5 linked regions of the Homo sapiens genome follow. The protein of the gene in region 3 purifies or fractionates together with the protein of the main gene of each other region. This does not show direct contact. Each region holds a gene or a part of one and is shown on either strand. Other genes may lie near its edges.

The links.
Region 1: the proteins of VAMP7 (region 3) and TBC1D15 purify together in Homo sapiens (co-immunoprecipitation; one large-scale study listed by IntAct). This does not show direct contact.
Region 2: the proteins of VAMP7 (region 3) and DIPK2A purify together in Homo sapiens (affinity purification with western blotting; one study listed by BioGRID). This does not show direct contact.
Region 4: the proteins of VAMP7 (region 3) and ATP6V1A purify together in Homo sapiens (co-immunoprecipitation; one large-scale study listed by IntAct). This does not show direct contact.
Region 5: the proteins of VAMP7 (region 3) and STX17 purify together in Homo sapiens (affinity purification with western blotting; one study listed by BioGRID). This does not show direct contact.

What each region holds. Positions count from the first base shown.
Region 1 is NC_000012.12:71,912,585-71,916,285, reverse strand, and holds part of TBC1D15 (TBC1 domain family member 15), read right to left. Parts: intron 3,207-3,701; exon of another isoform or gene 3,154-3,206; intron 2,461-3,153; coding exon 2,360-2,460; intron 1-2,359. UniProt on the Homo sapiens protein: Acts as a GTPase activating protein for RAB7A. Does not act on RAB4, RAB5 or RAB6.
Region 2 is NC_000003.12:143,985,128-143,988,828, forward strand, and holds part of DIPK2A (divergent protein kinase domain 2A isoform a precursor), read left to right. Parts: intron 1-415; coding exon 416-719; intron 720-3,701. UniProt on the Homo sapiens protein: May play a role in cardiomyocyte proliferation through paracrine signaling and activation of the PPI3K-AKT-CDK7 signaling cascade.
Region 3 is NC_000023.11:155,940,243-155,944,368, reverse strand, and holds the end of VAMP7 (vesicle-associated membrane protein 7), read right to left. Parts: intron 2,487-4,126; coding exon 2,418-2,486; coding exon of another isoform or gene 2,230-2,417; 3' UTR 600-2,229; downstream 1-599. UniProt on the Homo sapiens protein: Involved in the targeting and/or fusion of transport vesicles to their target membrane during transport of proteins from the early endosome to the lysosome. Required for heterotypic fusion of late endosomes with lysosomes and homotypic lysosomal fusion.
Region 4 is NC_000003.12:113,749,927-113,753,627, reverse strand, and holds part of ATP6V1A (V-type proton ATPase catalytic subunit A), read right to left. Parts: intron 1-3,701. UniProt on the Homo sapiens protein: Catalytic subunit of the V1 complex of vacuolar(H+)-ATPase (V-ATPase), a multisubunit enzyme composed of a peripheral complex (V1) that hydrolyzes ATP and a membrane integral complex (V0) that translocates protons.
Region 5 is NC_000009.12:99,948,079-99,951,779, forward strand, and holds part of STX17 (syntaxin-17), read left to right. Parts: intron 1-2,981; coding exon 2,982-3,207; intron 3,208-3,701. UniProt on the Homo sapiens protein: SNAREs, soluble N-ethylmaleimide-sensitive factor-attachment protein receptors, are essential proteins for fusion of cellular membranes.

The sequences.
Region 1 (3,701 bases), on a different chromosome or scaffold from region 3:
AATGACAGACACCATATTCGAAAAAGTGGTTACTCCTGGAGAAGGGAGAGTGGGATCAACAATGGATATACAAAGGGCTTCAAATGTGTCTGTAAATAAATGTGTCTGTATGGGGCAGGGGAGGGGGAGATGGAGAGGAGAAAGGAATTAAAACTATATGGCAAAATGGATGATGGGTATAACAAAGTTCATCAGATCACTTGTACTTTGTATTTCCATGATAATAGACAAAGTCTATGCCTAGACCTACATTAGATGCAAGTAAACATCAACAAAAGTAAATTTACAGACGTTAGGTTCAGCCACCACAAAGGTAGTACAAACTTACATGAAGTAAAGCTATAAAACAGAAACACAGAATCAAGAAACAGCAGCACAGATTTAGGGACATCAAACAAGGGCAATGCAGTGAAAAACAATCATACAGGTTATTTTGATTGCCATATATTTCCCTCTCATTCAAATATTATGAAAGAAAAGATGTTAGCAGACAACATAATCATAAGATATCTTTTTTAGAATAAAGACTAGAAAAATCCCCAGAACATCCTTAATGGAAAAGGCAAACACAGAGAGCATTTACTGTGAAAATGACAGAACAAAGAAACTGAACCTTCATACACAAAAAATGACGGACTGTAAAGTGTTTATTACACATGTTCAGAAGGTAGTCTTTACATATGAGACCTATATACACACGTCTGTATGCATGTGTGTATGTGGCATTATATGTCAATATATATTTACATGCCAATATTGGATTAGTTTTATTGAAAACTTATTGCATGATACTAAATGCAGTATGTTCATCTTAGTTGTGTTTTTTTTTTTTTTTTTAGAATATCTACTATAGCAATTTAAACTAATCACTGGGGAAAGATTCACATGTTTATTCTACAAAAACCCGTTGAACAACCTCATGTCAGGCATTAGGAAAATTCTGGTATGCTACCAGTGAAACAAGATATAATCCCTTTTATCAAGGAACATACTAGCTCTGGTGAAAAGAGGATAAACAACAAAAACACAAGGAAGGCAGACAACAGTTTTTATGTAATTAGTATCAGCTGTACAGACCTTTATAACAAATGCCTCAGGTTTCTAGAGCACTTGGGAGTAAATGGAACTAAGAAGGTAGACAAATCAATCAAAAAAGGAAGGAAGACAAACTATGACATTACCAAATTACTGCATTGATAATCCTTCCAAATAGTCAAAAAAAATTAATTTATGGCAAAAAACCAATTTGAATATTCATGAATTTAATGTAAAAGAACATTTTAAATCTATCAAATCTTACCAAGTATACATTTAGAAAAAAACTGAAAGAAGCAAAAACAAGTTGAATCTATGGACAAGAGATTTGGGGAAATAGCCACAAGCAGGGAAAATTTGAAGGAGAAAGAAAAATAGGCAAGCAAAAGGGAAAGAATAGAAGTAAAGAAAAAAGGAGAAGGGTACCACTTCCAAATTTCACATTTGTATCCCAGAAACTCTGAGTTAAACCCTGTATTACAGGAAAATATTTCAGATGGTTAGATTCAAAATGTTTATCCCTTGCAAGCAAGCCAGCCATTTCAATATCCAACATAAAGGCCCAGCATCCAGTATGTTAGTGTTATTTTGAAAAAACACAGCAACCTCTATGTAGTCAGGTCTTTGGACTTCATCTGCCTTTATCTAGTCTCACCCCTTCTGCTTTTATTTTTCTGAGATTGCTTGAAGAGACTTTTCTTTTATTTTCCTGTCAATATTCTCTGCACTATTATCCTAGAACTCTGTCTCAAAGATTTAACAATGATAATAGATAAAATGTTCTTTGTACTAACATGTATATATAGACAGTTCAATTCTAATAATCACATACTTCTGGGAAAATAACAATGAATTCCTAAGAAAGTGTCAGAGTTACAAATAGTTCAAACACATCTGGAGAAAAATCAGTTACTATAATGACAAAATTCAAAATCTTCACAAAAGGTAAGGATATTACTTGGCATGACTAAGCTTTATCTCTGAAACAGATGATATTAAAGTTCAACTATTCCACAAAATTGAATTCATCTATTTTATCAATATTCTGTAATGACACATGGCTCTTTAGTAGAAAATAAGCATTTACTGATATTAAATCCTGATTATTCCTATACTACAGGCACAAACTATTTCCTGTATTAAAAATACCACCAGTATTTCTAAGCCCTTGAAAGGCTACTAAAAAGAAAAAGTAACAAAAGGCATGAGGTAATTTTTTTAAGTTCCATCATAGTTGGCTAAATATAAAAATCAACCTTATACTATAAAATTATACAACTAAAATTTTAAAAATCAGTTTAATGGAAGGAATCTCTGTTCTTACCATTTGGTCCATGTAAGAGGCAAAGCACCAAAAGGCATCCACTTCATTTTCCATCACATATAAAAGAGGGGAAAGTAAATCACTCATTCCTTGAACATATCCTAAAAAGAAAAGAAAAAATCATCTCTGAAAACCCAAGTTTTATGTAACCTTCTGCAAGTTGTGCATATCACCACCATTTCGCTTAAAATTGTATCTTTCTCCTTTGCATTTAGAAATTGGTAGACACTGATGTTCACCAAGAAAAGAATATAAATGAAGAGGAGGAACTCTAGTCATAAGTAAGAAAGATGAGTTGTTTTAGATTGAGATGTCAAACAATATATAGCTTCCAGTACGTGTCTCAGTGCAGATACACTATCAAGAGTGGGTAATATTTTTAAAAATAATGTGCAAGAGCATCATGAGAAAGAAGAGGGGTGAAGAGATAATCCAGAGGAACATCAAATGTAAGAGTATACACTCAAAGACAGGTTTAAGAAAGACCAGTCAGAGAAGTAAAGAAAAAAATCAAGCGAGAATAATGTTGCAAAAATTAACAAGAAAGTTGCAAGCCCAGAGTGGTTAGCAATGCCAAACTACCATGAGTAAGCCACATAAAACAAGAACTTTGGGTTCAACTGCTTTAACAATCAGACCTTTAGATTCACATAACAGGAGTTACAAAATTAAGAGCCTCTTTTAAATAGTCATATCTACGTCCTTCTTTCTTTTTTTGTTACTCTCTACACCCAACCAATGCCAGCAACTGGGCTTAACCCAATCAATATTTTGTACCTAAAGTGACCACTTACCTACATGTCTCTTGATATTATTACAATTTCTCAATGGTGACAGTAATAGAGCCCTTGATTAAAAGAAAAACTAGAAAATTAAGGAGTCAGATCCCTCACTTAAAAATAAGAAAAAGTGTTAGTTTTACTTTTTCACCTGAACATGTCAAACTTCTTTTTTACTTCCTCTTATAAAACCCTCAATTATCCTTGTTTTACAATTTTCAAGACTTGAAAAATTTTCAGACTTAAGAGGTTCTTGAACCAATGAAGGGACACGAACTTATACTAAGCCTTTTTACTTAAACGTTATCATTCAACTTCGGTAACTTTTGTGTATTTATTAAAATCATGTAGAAATTTCTTTATTGGTAGCTTGGGAAGTCTGGAAAATAGTCTTTCATTTGCGAATCCAAAGTTTACATTTTTATTCACCAAAATCTATCTGCACTGAAGCCATGTAAAAGTAAATATTTAATGAAAGAGGGAGGAGATAGTTCTGCTATCATATAAATGATACATAATTACACATTACTCTGTTTTGGAGGAAAACTTTAAAAAATGATCTC
Region 2 (3,701 bases), on a different chromosome or scaffold from region 3:
TTGCCTGGTAAATAACTGCTGGTTAATAGGCTGCAGTGCTATCAGTTTAAATAAAAGGATTGGTTGATTACATTTACACAAGTGAAGAAGATAAGGGAAAGCATAAATACTTTTAGATTTGGTAATAAAGACAGTGTCTTCCCTCTTATTGATCATTTTGGTTCTTAGATTTTGATAAGCAAGACTTGTCATCCTATTTTAGCTTTATAATGTAAAGTTCTCTATTTAAATTTTTTTCAGGTCCATAGTACTGGTATGAGTTAGGAAAAAATGAAGTTAATCTCTAATAAACTGTTGAATGTAATAAGAAAATCCAAAGTCATTCCTAGTAGCAATCTCTACTGAAAGGATCTGAGGATAGACCTAGGATATTTTCATCAGAATCTCTTGTAATATTAAGATAATTCTTTTGTAGAGTTTTCCGTCTGATGAAGGTTGGCCATTTGCAAAGTATCTTGGAGCTTGTGGAAGAATGGTGGCTGTAAATTATGTTGGAGAAGAACTGTGGAGTTACTTTAATGCGCCATGGGAAAAACGAGTTGACCTCGCTTGGCAATTAATGGAAATAGCAGAACAGCTTACAAACAATGACTTTGAATTTGCACTCTACCTCCTGGACGTCAGCTTTGACAATTTTGCAGTTGGTCCTAGAGATGGGAAGGTAATCATTGTGGATGCTGAAAATGTTTTGGTTGCTGACAAAAGATTAATTAGACAAAGTAAGTATATAATTTTAGATTTTTTTCTACTCATTTTTTCCTATGTCAAAATAATGTTTATACTTGTATGAAATGAGCCTTGAATTTCCTCCTTAGATGGCAACTTTAAGCGTCTTTCTTTGCTTTATATGACCACTGTCAATAAACAAATACAGATACTCTTTGACTTACTGGGGGTTACATCTTGATAAACCCGGTGTCAGTTGAAAATATTGTTATTTGAAATATATCTAACCTACGGGACATCATAGCTTAGTCTTGCCTACCTTAGACATACTCAGAACACTTACATTAGTCTAAAGTTGGGGGAAATTGTGTAAAACAAAGCCTATTTATAATAAACTGTTGAATATAATTATATTCATGTAATATATTGAATTCTGTACTGAAAGTGAAAAACAGAATGGTTGTATGGGTTCTTGAAATATGGTTTGTACTTTATTTTTAACCATTTTGATGATCCCTGGCACTGCAGCTCTGAGTTTGGTTTGACATTCTGATTATTACATCTCACCCAAAACTTTGCTCTCCATTTACTTTTGAGTTCTTCATGGGATAGATGAGTAGTGTCTGAAGTGTTTTGAAAATTAAATGCCGGCCGGGTGCGGTGGCTTACGCCTGTAATCCCAGCACTTTGGGAGGCCGAGGCGGGCGGATCACGAGGTCAGGAGATCGAGACCATCCTGGCTAACACGGTGAAACCCCGTCTCTACTAAAAATACAAAAAATTAGCCGGGCGAGGTGGCGGGCGCCTGTAGTCCTAGCTACTCGGGAGGCTGAGGCAGGAGAATGGCGTGAACCCCAGGGGGCGGAGCCTGCAGTGAGCCGAGATTGCGCCACTGCACTCCAGCCTGGGCAACAGCGAGACTCCGTCTCAAAAAAAAAAAAAAAAAAAGAAAATTAAAGAAAATTAAATGCCATAGAAGTTGTAAAGCATCAAGAACAAAGCCTGTAGGTCTAGAACCAATTCAGTTAGCAAAACCAAAGGGTTGTTGCTCCATGGTGAGGGTTTTATATTTTTTAATCCCCTCTTTCCCCCTGATAAAAGTAATATGAGTATCTTTTGACAAACAAAGGCTGAAAATTTACGGCACCTGGGGAAAAGTTTATGTGACAGCCATATATTAGGTTGACATTTACTTTTTGCATGATCTTGGCATGATCCTATTAAATACTTGATTTTTCCCACTCCCTTTTTCAGATTTTATACTTACCAGACCACTTTTCTGATTATTTCTTGACTTGCCATGTAGATCCTCCTACAGGAAGTGAACACCCTGCTGGAGTATTCTACTCTCTATTTACCTCTTCCTACATCTGTGAATATTGTAGCAGCGTATACTATTCTTTCTTTTTTAAAGTGTACACAAGCAGGTGGTTTTTAGTATATTCATAGAGTTGTGCAATTTTCCTAAGCTTAAAAAAATTATTTCAGTGTTTATAACAATAATTTTTTATAATTCATTTTATGCAGACATTCCTGGAATAATTATTACTAATTCCTGACCTTAGATGAATCCAGCCATATAGCTTCTGTATTCTTCCATTTCATACAGTGAGCATTGCTCTAGTGCTGCTTTAACTGTGGTCATTTCTTTTCAAATGTCTCATGGGTCCTCTAAATAGTCACTTTGCAAAAGTCTCTGTCTGTTCATTTACTCTCTTTTCTTTCCACTTTCTAGTAAATGACCTTTATTTTATTTCTTCACAGGGAAATTGAGATTTTGCTGTGGCAACTCCCCCAGTGTCCTTTATCATCTAAACCTCATTAAAACAGCAACAGATAGATTCTTCTTTGAGAACTTGTTACATCAGTTATCTTCTTCAGTGTCCCACCTCCTTCCTTTAATATCCAACTTCTCTTGCCTTCCTATAAAAAGTATATATAAGACTCTCTTCTGCTTCTCCTTGCTTGTCCACTGTTTTTAAAAGTATTTATTGCCTTTCTGCTTCCTCAGCCTCTATTCATTCCTTAGTCCATTAAAACCTGACGTAGACCTCTGCCTTGCCATTAGCAACCACCTAATTGGCAAATTTGTGAAGTGATTGTGACTAGTATCAACTTCTCGAAGTTGTTTCCTCCTTTGGAATAGTAACCTTCCTTCTTTTGGAATAGTAACCTTCAAAAAACATTAACTTACTACTCCTTTGCTTAAATGGTTCTAATGACTTCCCATTGTTCTGGAAGTAAAATCCAAACACCTTAAAGCCAGGGCATAATCTGTAATCTGTGTGACTTGGCCCTCTTCTGATCCTTTTTTTTTTTTCTTTTTTGAGACAGGGTCTCTGTCACCCAGGCTGGAGTGCAGTGGTGTGATCACGGCTCACTGCAGCCTTGACCTCCCTGGCTCAAGTGATCTTCCTGCCTCAGCATCCCAAGTAGCTGGGACTACAGGCACATACCACCATGCCTGGCTAATTTTTAAATTTTTTGTAGAGGGTGGGATCTCGCTGTGTTGCCTAGACTGGTCTCAAACTTGTGGGCTTAAGCAGTCCTCCCACCTTGGCCTCTCAAAGTGCTGGGATTACAGATGTGAGCCACCCCGCCCAGCCTGTGTATATATGTGTTTTTCGAGTGCTTCATTTTTAATACCCCTCCATCTATTGCCCTTGGTGCTTCTGCTACAATGGCCTCTTGTTTTCCTGAATGAATCGGCCCACTTCTGGGCATTCCCAGTTTCCTCTTCCAAAAATGTCTCTTCCTTCTTCCCTATACAGCTAGCTATTTGTTTTTCAAGCCTTGACTCCTTCAAGTACATGTGTGCTTATGTGTTCTCAATTTGCCTAATATCCCTCTTACCTCAAAATCATAAGTTTCAAGTCTAGTTCTAGTTGTACATATGACATGCCCACCTAATACCTTATAGCTCCTTTATATTTATTTTGTTTATATATAAAATATTGACACTATTATGGCAATTGTACATACCTTGTCATCCAATTAGAACCTTAAACTTTACCCATATACTTAATTATTTTTGC
Region 3 (4,126 bases):
TAGGGAGAACTTAAATAGGCTGTTTTTAAGTTATTGCAGCCTGTACAAAAATATATTCTATACCTGACTTTAGCCACCTTACGTTCAGAGGTCCCAAGTGACTGATTATTTTGTTGTGACCTATCTATTTGTATATTTGATTTGTGCCTGTTTTTCTTTTATTTCTGTTTAGGTACCCTGTTTGCTATAATGAATTATTCCCTCCCACCATTATGCCTTCCGCTTGAGTCTCTTTCAGAACCAGTCATTTAACTTTAGATAGAAAGATTTTTCAGAATTGTGCTAAACTGGATGAAAATCCCTGGGGTTCTTTTTCAGTTCTGTCTAAATCATGCACTCAGGACGATAGTTGTGAAGGCTGTGTGATCATCTCAGAATCTTTCATTGGTTTCAGCATGGGCTATATATTTTTTAAGTTCATTTGTGTCTTTTGAAGAAATTCTACACACCTGAGACTATGCTACAGATCTTTACTGGAAGTCTCCAGGTAACACTTCTTAATATATTTTCCGCATAAGTAAAATACTTTTGTTCTGTAAACAATGGCAAATGTCATCAGAAGAAATTAGGTTCCAGAAAGAACTTCTAAAACAAGCAAATCATTGTATTACTCTTAAATTTTATTAACATCTTCAGTTTGTGCGTCATTTAAAATGAGACATGTGCTTTAAAAAGCATTCTTATACATAAATAGACCAAGGAACAGTTAGGTAATTGATCCCTAAAACATGCACATCAATTTTATTCAGGTGTGTATAAGAAAGGGAAATAAGCTTTAAACCTTTTTCTTTGGATTAAAAACATTTGGAAATTATTCAGGAATGCCAAATGTTTTTCTGGAACAGATGTATTTTCCAATAGGAAATACTGATGCAATTAAGAGGCATTAGTGTTGATAAAGAAGACTGGAAAAACGTTTGTGCTATGCTAGATAAACAAGAAAAGAGTTCAAGTGGGCCTAAGATCTATGTCAAATAAATGAATCAGGTAGCATGAATTGAAAGGTTTGGATAGAAGAACAGGTACCATGAGCCAGATTATGGGACACATATATGTTCAAGGCACATGACTAGGCTAAACAGGTGGCTAGATTCTACAGACTAATTTGTTCATTCATTGAGAAAGTGTAAAATGTAATATAATTTCAATTTAATGGCACTTATTGATAAATAAATGCAATTGGATCTAGGGTAGAAAATGTCTTCCTTTCAGATACACACCAGAAATGCATACTAGATAACAGATGCCAGTAGCGATATGATTACAGTCCAATTTTCTTACACTGCAGTTAAATGGTTGTTAAACTGTTTTGTATTAATTCTATATGTCATACTGTCTATTCTCTTTCAAGTTTCACAAAAGAATTCATCAAAACTAGGCAGATTTAAGAATTTATTTAACCACAAAGAATGCTCAAAACTATTATTCAACAGGAATCAAGCCCAAACCCTGGAGTTGACTGCTGACCGTATTCGGTTTGGGCTTTTCCCAGAATGGAAACACTTTTCCCACACTACCTCCCTTTGCACAGCTAAAATGCTAGCATATCCACTGTGGTTCCCTTCTTTTTCTTTGGCAAGTCAGAGGAATTTACCTCCCCACCCCCTCTACTACATATTCTATTAGCGACACGATTGCCCTAAATATTCACAGAAGAAAAAGGAACACATTTAAAAAACTGCAACTTTCAACAATATTTAAACCTTCATCTTCTCAAATCAACTGCAATGGGAAAACAGAAGATATCAAGCTATCCACTGTATTGTGAATGATCAGCACACTGAACTTTATTCCTGAAAGTCAATATTAGGAGGACAAGGATAATTCTGTGTGCTTCTAATGGGCTAGCAAAATGTTCCCCATCTAACTGAAATAAGAATGTTTCATACTTTACTTGTCTGAGCTCTTAGAAGGAAGCAGCACCAACATCATTACAATTCCCCAAATAACAACTATTATCCATTTATATTGTTTTGAAGCACCTAAAACTTCTCAATAACAAAAGACATTAAGATGAGATGTTAGCAATACTGTCTCTTGAATACTTTTGTGTGCACATACAAAGTTTCTCCATAGTTTTAGTAGATAGCTCATAAGACTAGCGGCGACAGCTTTGAGCAATTAAAAACAAAAATGTTTCTCTAAATAGATGACACTAGTTAACAAACCAAAGAAATAAACAAAAGCCTTTTTAAGGCTACTGCTGCAATGAATGGTTCAATCTGAAGTTCACAGGAATAAACTGGTAGATAAGACAAAGATAAACCTGGAGGCATGGAACAAGATTTTAAAAAGTGAGAAGAGGGTTGAAGAGACTGGCAGATACCATCTGTCAGTATGTGAAAGGCTTGAGTCACATGGATTGCTTTTAACTCCTTGTTCTCTCATATCCTTGGTTAATGGTAACTTCTTCTTTCCTATTTCTTCACACAGCTTGGCCATGTAAATCCACCACAGAGAGGTGAAACAATGATATAGATGAACACCTGGAGGGACGAGGAGAGCAATTTTATTTTCTTGAATCAATCATATTATTCTAAATAATATATATAGGAAAGTAGAGCCTTATTAAGAAATACTTCTGATTCCATTAGAGTAGCAGTTATGTAGTAATGGAACACACTAAACAAGTATTTTCCAAGACAGAAGTGTAGTTAACATTGTCGTTTTTGGTATAACTCACACCCACTTGAACTCTAGCGTTTCCTTCAGTGGGAGAGAAAGCAGTGGGGTTGTTGCTCTTCACTGGTAACTCGGCAGAATCAAGGCTAAATGAGCAACTCATACTGATGTGTCATTAACAAGTCATAAAAAAATCACAAATAACCATAATTCTCCTGAAGTATGGTTTCATTAATTATATTTTTAGGTTTTGCACATGAATTTTATTTTTGATTAATATAAGAATATATTTTAAAAGCCTGAGTAGAAGGCTTTCATCTATATCACTTATGAGCAAGAACACTGCTACGAACTGTTCAGTGGATAATGACACAATAATTACGATGACCAAAACAATGAAAAGCAGATGATGTAAGTAACACTGCAAAAATACTGGTGCTATTACAGATGTGTTTGCTTTTTAATTCTAGATTATAATTTTAAATTATATTATAAAAGTCACTACTTGTTCACATTATTATATCACAAAAAATAGATTTTAAACATTAGGTTCACTGCATTAGTCACTTTATTTTATTTATTTTTTATTTTTTATTTTTGTAGAGATAGGGTGTCACTATGTTGACCAGGCTGGCTTCAAACTCTTGGCCTCAAGCAATCCTCCTGCCTCAGCTTCCCAAAGTGCTGGGATTACAGGCATAAGCCCCTATGCCTGGCTTTATTTTGCTTTAAATTACAACTTTTTGAGATCTTTAAGTGACTGATTTCATTATTTGCAAGCTTGGAAAAGGATGCATTGATGAATTGCATGCCCTTTGCTCCAAAAGTGAGCAAAGCATTTTGCCTTGTAGGGAACTATAAATATTGCCAGGGTTGGGGGGCAGATTACAGCAAATTCTGTTTATTAATGAATAGGTTGAACTTCTGACATCATATTCACACATACACACACATACTCACACATACACATGCCACAAATGTAAAGTTTACCAACTTGATGTAAAGTTGACTATTTGTCACAGCTGTAATATAAGGATTTTTCAAGCTGAAGTACATCTCGTTAGGTGACAACACCTTTTCGCAAAGATTGATATTGCATTTAGAGCTGTGCTCTGCATGTAATAAGTAATCAGTAAATATATTCTGAATTTAACAATTCAGCTGCACAAATCAACCTAAACTCCCAGACCAAATAATAAGTAAGAAGCTAAGCTCAGGAGCCTAAAATGTGATATTAGAAAGAGAAACCTGAGCAAGGAACCATTCAAGGCCATGACAATTACTTCCAGTATAAAATCTACAGATCTATGACTGCTCTTCTCTTTTAGATAAATCCAGCTGTCTAAGGCAGAGGACCCTCAAGCTGTGGTAGAGGAGAAGCAGGGTCAGAGTTATCTGCTTGGAGGTAACTTTGGGCTTCTGGACATGACTGGAGGATGGGGAGGAAAGGCAACTTTATCTGACCATGAACAGGGTAAAGCACCCCCCACCTGTTAGCAATAGT
Region 4 (3,701 bases), on a different chromosome or scaffold from region 3:
CCTACCATTTAATCACTTCACAACATTCCATAAAATGCCTCGGCCATAATTTACATAACAATACCCCTATTAACAGGCATTCCCTTTGTTTCCACGTTTTTTGCCACTACTAACATTGAAAATTGAAACACTGTTGCAGCTAACACTCCTGTAAACTCTTACTGGTGCTTTTATTTCTAAGGAAAAGATTACATGGAGTTAGACTGATGGGTGGAAAATACATGTATTCTCAGTATTAACTGATGTTGCTTGATTGTTTACTAGGAAAAACTCTAACACTTCACATCTCCGCTAGCATTTTATGAGATAATCCTTCTCCACATATCCCTGCTAGCAGTAGGTTTACCACTTAATTTTTGCTTGTCAGAGAAATAATATTTCATTGTTAGTATATTGATTACTAGTAAGGTTACACATCCTTTACTGTTTGTTGAATGTTTGGATTTCTCTTCTGTGAACTTCTGGTGACATGTTTTATCCATATTTTTACTGGGTGAACTTTTTCTTAATTGGAAAGAGTTCTTTCAATGGTTAACTCATCTGTTACATATATCTCAAGCCTTTTTTTCCGCCTGATTTTGTCTTTGGTCCTTTATTTTTGCCACTAAAGAATCCTTCGTTTCCATGCAGTCTCATGTGTCTATCCATACTTTTATGACTTTTAGGTTTCCTATCTTGGTTTAAAAAACTACATCTGGATTGTTTGTATAAAGGAAATTTAGGAGATTAATATCTTAAATATTTTATTGTTTACATTTAAGCCTCTAATCCATCTGAAATCAGTTTTTGCATCTGTTGCAATGTATTGGATCAATTATATTTTCTTCTAGATGAGCAAGTTGTATCAGTTAACATTTATGATATATATGTGCCCTTTTTCACCATTGGATTGAATTATCCCTTTGAAATGTGGTAAATTATCTTATATACTGAGATTTACTCTGCTTTTTAAAATTCTGCTGCACTTATATACTTAAAATTAAAAATATATTTACACACCTATAAAATTAAATAACTTACTCAGCTACCTGGATGAGACAAAACATTTTCACTTAAGATATCCAAGTAGTTAAGATGAAAGAATTATTTAGGTGCCTTAATTTTCCATATCAAATTAAGAAATATTTTGCAATGCCTACTGACATTATGAATTCAAATATACAGAAGGTATAGTAATAAATTTTAATTTTTTCTTTAATGCATCAATCTAGAGATAATTACTTATTTTGATGCATTTCCTTACAACTTTTTCCATATGTATATACTATTATTATTATACATATGCTCTTTTTTCAATTTTAAAGGTATTTTCCAATTCAATTAGTCTTCTCTATTGTACCTTTAAACATTAAAAAAATTAAACTAAGAACTAAAAACTTATAAAGTCTGGTTGCTTTTCATTGCTCAAGCACATCTGAAACTCTTCTATATCATATCATATACCACCCATTTTATTTTCAGTGAAATAAGCTTAATTATTTTTCAGAAAAGAAACAAAATGTGGCATGTTGCAGATAAAATTTTTTTAAAGGCTTACCAAGAGAACAGTTTCAACAGATAGCATTAAGATCCAAAACTGAAATTTTTGTTGTTAGTCATAATAATACCAAAAATAATAGTGATTTTTAAAACCTTAAGATATAAGAAAGTGTTTCCTTCTAAAATTTAAATCTGAAAATACTTATGATATACCATTAATTTTTAAAAACAGCTAATCACAGTTGTAAATTTATTAACTAGAGCTAACTACAAAGAAATATACAGAAAGAGGAGTTTCAAATGTAAATAAATCATTATTCTAAAGATCACTTCAGTAGTTTCAGGTAAAAATAAATATGTTACTACGAAGATACACAACCACTTCAGCTGTCTTTATATATACATACACACACATTGCGTACTTTATATACTACAAATATTTACTCTATATATAGTATATACATAATATGTATATACTAAATATAAATGAATACACTTATAAAAACCAAAGTCGCTATCATTTCACCATAGGGAAAAAAGAGAATAGCAAAACTAATATTCTCTTCAGAAATTATATGGAAAACATTTTTATTGCTCACATTTCATTTATTTAAAATAAAGTTACTTAGTATAAAGAATAAATTCATTCCTAAATCAATAAATCCATTTGTTATAATAGACAATCAACATTAAGGAAAAGTCAATAAACTTAATAAAATCTTTCCTTAAGACAAATGAGTAATTTTTTTTTTCAGGAATAAAGTGATTCATAAACTCATGATAGCTATACTTACTGTTTAATTTGCTGATATTTTCCATTGCAAAACTACTAACCCTTGTGAATCATGAATTTAAGAAGGGAAGAATTTTACTCTAGTTTATGTCTCCATTATGTTCTCTACATTTCTTTGTCTATTTCATATAAGGATAAAAATAAGATATAAAAACACTTAATTTTTTTAAAAAGACAAAATTTTTAAGCTTATAAGCATTAACTCAAAAGTCCCTGCTCTACAATCTGTACAATTTTAATATACTTCTATAATCCATTGCAGGAATAAAAACTTCAAAATTGAAGAACTGCCTCCTTAAATTTATTCCATACATTAATGATTACAAGCTTTGGAAAATCTTTATATAGAAAATATTAAGACACTGCAGTTGCCCAAATAAGGGACTTTATCTTGATATTTTTCAGATAAAATTAATAAATCTGTTTTAGAATCTTTGCTACAAGTACACTTTTCTTGTTCCCCCATTTTTTGGGTAATAGCTTCTTTTCAAATTCTACTCTCTTCTTCATGCCCCAAACCTGCTGCTCACAGGGACATCAGTCAATTCTGTGGGTTGTCTTAAGTCTTTAGAAATTCAGTATATAAAATCAAAGTAGTTATCAGTAAAATTAATTAAAAATTTTTTTTACAAAATATGTTCTAGGCATTTTACATTCATGATCTAACTTAATAGCACCATCTATAGATTTAAACGTGAGAAAACTTAACCTTACTTAAGTACACTGTCCAAAGTCACACAGTTATTAAGTGGTAGGGCCAGAACTTCAACTAGGTCTCTATGACTGGGAAATCAATTCATGTAAAGTCTGAGCTACACTGCTTTACCATTTTACACACCACTTAGTTTTTTTTGTTTTTGTTTTTGTTTTTTTTGAGATGGAGTCTCACTCTGTTGCCCAGGCTGGAGCGCAGTGGTGTGATCTTGGCTCACTGCAACCTCCACCTGTCGGGTTCAAGTGATTCTCCTGCCTCAGCCTCCTGAGTAGCTGGCACTACAGGCGCGTGCCGCCATGCCTGGCTAATTTTTTTAATTTTTTTAAGTAAAGACAGGGTTTCACCGTGTTAGCCAGGATGGTCTCGATCTCCTGACGTTGTGATCTGCCCGCCTTGGCCTCCCAAAGCACTGGGATTACAGACACCACTTAGTTTTTAAGATATTTTCACATAGATTACCTAGGGTTTATGTCATAGGAAGGTTCCTAAGTATCAAACCTGAACCCCTCCCCAGCATTACGTAAAAGGACATATAACTAAAGTGGCAGAGCTGAATGAAGATCCTCTGACTTTTAGTCTAGTGCTAGTCCACTTATAGATCACGCAGAGCCACTTTTTCATTTAGTACGATTCATTCCTCTTCCCTTCTCTCCCATATTTTGATGATAACCATACTTATTAGTAAACAAACATGCTGTGAAAATAAGTTGGTCT
Region 5 (3,701 bases), on a different chromosome or scaffold from region 3:
TTCTTCATATATGGTTTTACCATCCTGTTCCCTCTGTTTGATTTTAGAGAGATTCCCTAGTTGCCCTATCCAATGTAGTAGCTCCTAACTACATGTGACTGTTGAGCACTTAAAATGTAGCCAGTTTGAACTGAGATGTGCTGTGAATGTAAAATATATACCAGATTTCTAAGACTTACTACAAATAAAACAATGTAAAAGATTTTAAGTTTTATAATTGCATATTAAAATAGTATTTTAGCTATATTAGGTTAAATAAAATATTATTAAAATTAATTTCCCTTGTTTTTACTTTTTTAATGTAATTTAAAAAATTTTTAAATTACATATGTGGCTTGTGTGTGTGATTTGCATTATGTTTGTGTTGGATGGTGTTTGCTATGTAATAAAGTAGTTAGAACACAAGATCTGTGGTCTGGATTTGATTCTTGCCTATACTATTTACTAGCAGTGTAATCCTGGGCTACTTTTTGAACTTCTTGCTTTAATTTTCTCTTCTATAAAATGAGAATAATAGTAATATCCATTTCAAAGATATATTGTGAGGGGAAGATAAAAGACGTAAAGCTGTTAGCACAATCGATAACTTTAAGTGTTGATTAAAATTTAGCCACTATTTATGTTTTTGTTATCATTGTTGCTGTTATTATAGTATCAGATTTTATACTTCAGTGGGTTTTTTCTTTCTCTCCCTCAAAATTTTCCACATTACTCATAGTAATAGAGTTCTTAGCTGGATACTGTAATTTGACTGGGGACAGACATATGTACAAATTACATAAGTGAGGAAGGTGTCACAAACAAATGCTCATTAAGTTTGGCTGTAGAAAATTTTTAATGCTTCTCCAAGATAATATTACCTAAAATATTTCTGTAGACTGGTAACTATATAACCAAGCTTTATAATTATGGTCCAGAAAGGAGTCACATAGCCAGGAAATGGTGGTGTGTTGGAAACAGTATTGTTCTGGGACTTGAGGCCTGGGCTGTAGTCCAAATTCTGCCACTGTGTTTGTCTAGACTCCAGTTTCCTTATTGTAAAATTGTGAGGTTGTATTAGATGCTCACTTATGCCCCCTTTAAGGTTATATAATTTTAACATATTAATACCTACATTTCACATATTTTGAATCTACAGTTTAATTATCCTTAGGTTTTTCAGCTCATATTAGAATGGTAAGAGACTGAAGATAAGGTTACAGGAAGTATAGAGTCATGGTAAGATAGAGGCACAATTTTTTCACCCAGAAAAATCTTACAAGATGCTTTAGGTTGTAACTAAACTATTTTTTTTTCTAGAATTGACTTTAATTTTACTACAGTAAAATGGAAACTTTAGATTGTATTATATTAAGATACTACATAGATAGACATTATTATTATAGTTTAGTGGAAAGATTGCTGGCCCTATCGGAATATCTGGGTTTTAACCCCAGTTTTGCCACTAGATAACTTAAGTAAATCCTAAACAGGTTTTTTTTTGTTTGCTTTTTCCATATGTAATAATTTGGACTGTAATAATGTAACACCTCACTCAGAGTATGCACTTGAAAAATTAATTCTTACTTAACTGGTCTGTCTACTGTGTAGGATTTGCATTAATATTGTGAAAACACTTTAGGGGAAAATAATTTAAAATATATGAATAGACATATAACTTTTCTTACTTTGATTATTTTTGCAAATTTGTTCTATTTAATCTTAAAGGGATTGTTTCTTTGTTTTCAAAGTATAGACCATTGAGAAAGAGGGAAAGCTCCCCAGTATATTTTATGAAGTTAGCACAACCTTAAACCTGTTAAAGCAAATTTAAACCTAGTAAAGATAGTATAAATACACAAACTGTGTACATGCACACATGTATACACACACACACACACACACACACTCCTATGTGCTAAAGTTTCAAATAAAATACTAGCAAATGAATTCAGCATTGTATTTAAAAATTATATATATTGACTAGAAAGGCTTTATCCCAGGAATATAAAGATGACTCTACACTACAAAATCTGTACATAATTCATTATAGCAACATATTAGAGGTAAATTTATAACTAAGCCAGTAGGTATTTCTCAAAAAGAAGGAAAATCATTTGATAAAAATCTAACAACTTCATTCATAGGGAAGTGCAGAGTAAAGCAACAGTGAGATGACATGCAGGACTGGCAGCATGTGAAGAAATAGGCAATCATACCTTGATGCTAGTGTGAAGTGTTACTGCTTTTTGGGAAAAAAACAACAATAGCTTCTGAAATAAAAATGCACATTATCATTTGAATATTCCTGTTTCTGGGAGTCTTTCCTACACAAAATAATATATTAATATTAGTGTATACTATAATGTTAATATATACTAATATAGTAAATTAGGACTTATATGCAGGGATATTTGTTTCATAGTTTGTAATAACTAAAAATTAGGAACAACATGAATGTTGATCACCGAAGGAGTGACTGAGTAAATTATTCTACACTACACCGTGGAATATAGTGTAACCATTGAGCAGGAGGGATAATATTGTTGAGTATGGAATGGCAAATTATAGATTACTGTGTATAATGTAATCCATTTTTTAATAAAAAGGGAGAAGCCTTATATATGTTAAATGTGTGCATGAGCCGTGAGAAATGTGTGGGAGTATTGAGTTAAGAGGGGGTGGGATAGGTGAAGTGAGAATATCATTTTTATTTCATATGCTTCTGTAGTGTTTGATTTATTGTGAAGAGCATTTATTTTTGTATAACCACATTTAATGAAGGAAAAATGCTAAATAAATTCAAAGTATGAGCATGTGGGTTCCAAAGATGCTGCATTTGGCCAGCCAGAGACATGGAAAATGTAAAAGTATTATGCTACACCTTCTATTGTGGAGATATTTGTTATAATTTCCATCCACAACTATTATAACATTACTTCTGAAAAGAAAGATATCTTATACTAAGAAATGGTGGCATTAATGATTTTTTTCTTTTATAGCAACTCCGATCCAATATCCGAGAAATTGAGAAACTTTGTTTGAAAGTCCGAAAGGATGACCTAGTACTTCTGAAGAGAATGATAGATCCTGTTAAAGAAGAAGCATCAGCAGCAACAGCAGAATTTCTCCAACTCCATTTGGAATCTGTAGAAGAACTTAAGAAGCAATTTAATGATGAAGAAACTTTGCTACAGCCTCCTTTGACCAGATCCATGACTGTTGGTGGTAATGTATTGTGCTAAGTCTTATTCTCAGTCACAGTAGTGCAGTTAATTAAAGATCACCTCCTTGAGTAGATACTGAATTATCTATAGGTCTTCAGAGACCATTCACTATCCCAATATGCTGAATCCTTGGACCCTGATCAGTGTTCCTGGAAATGTGTACCCTGGATATTTTGCAGAATAAAAAATTTAAGGCTATGCTTATGGAGTGGGACTTCAGGGAAAGTACCCGTTTGTCTATTTATTGAAGAGAAATTTAAATATATTTCCTAAGGATAATGTCATTCTTGTCTGCAAAGTACTCTTTACTCCTTTCCAGGTGCAGGGGTGACCTCTTCAGGCATGCTTTTTTTTCTTAAGCATTCTGATTTTCAGAGGGGATGTTAGATCTATCTTTCAGCCAAGTTCTCTGAATAACTGACAACATTAAGTAATCTACAATGGGAGTTAAGCCATCATCTTCTGTGAAGTGATACTCTAAGAAACAGCCCTGTG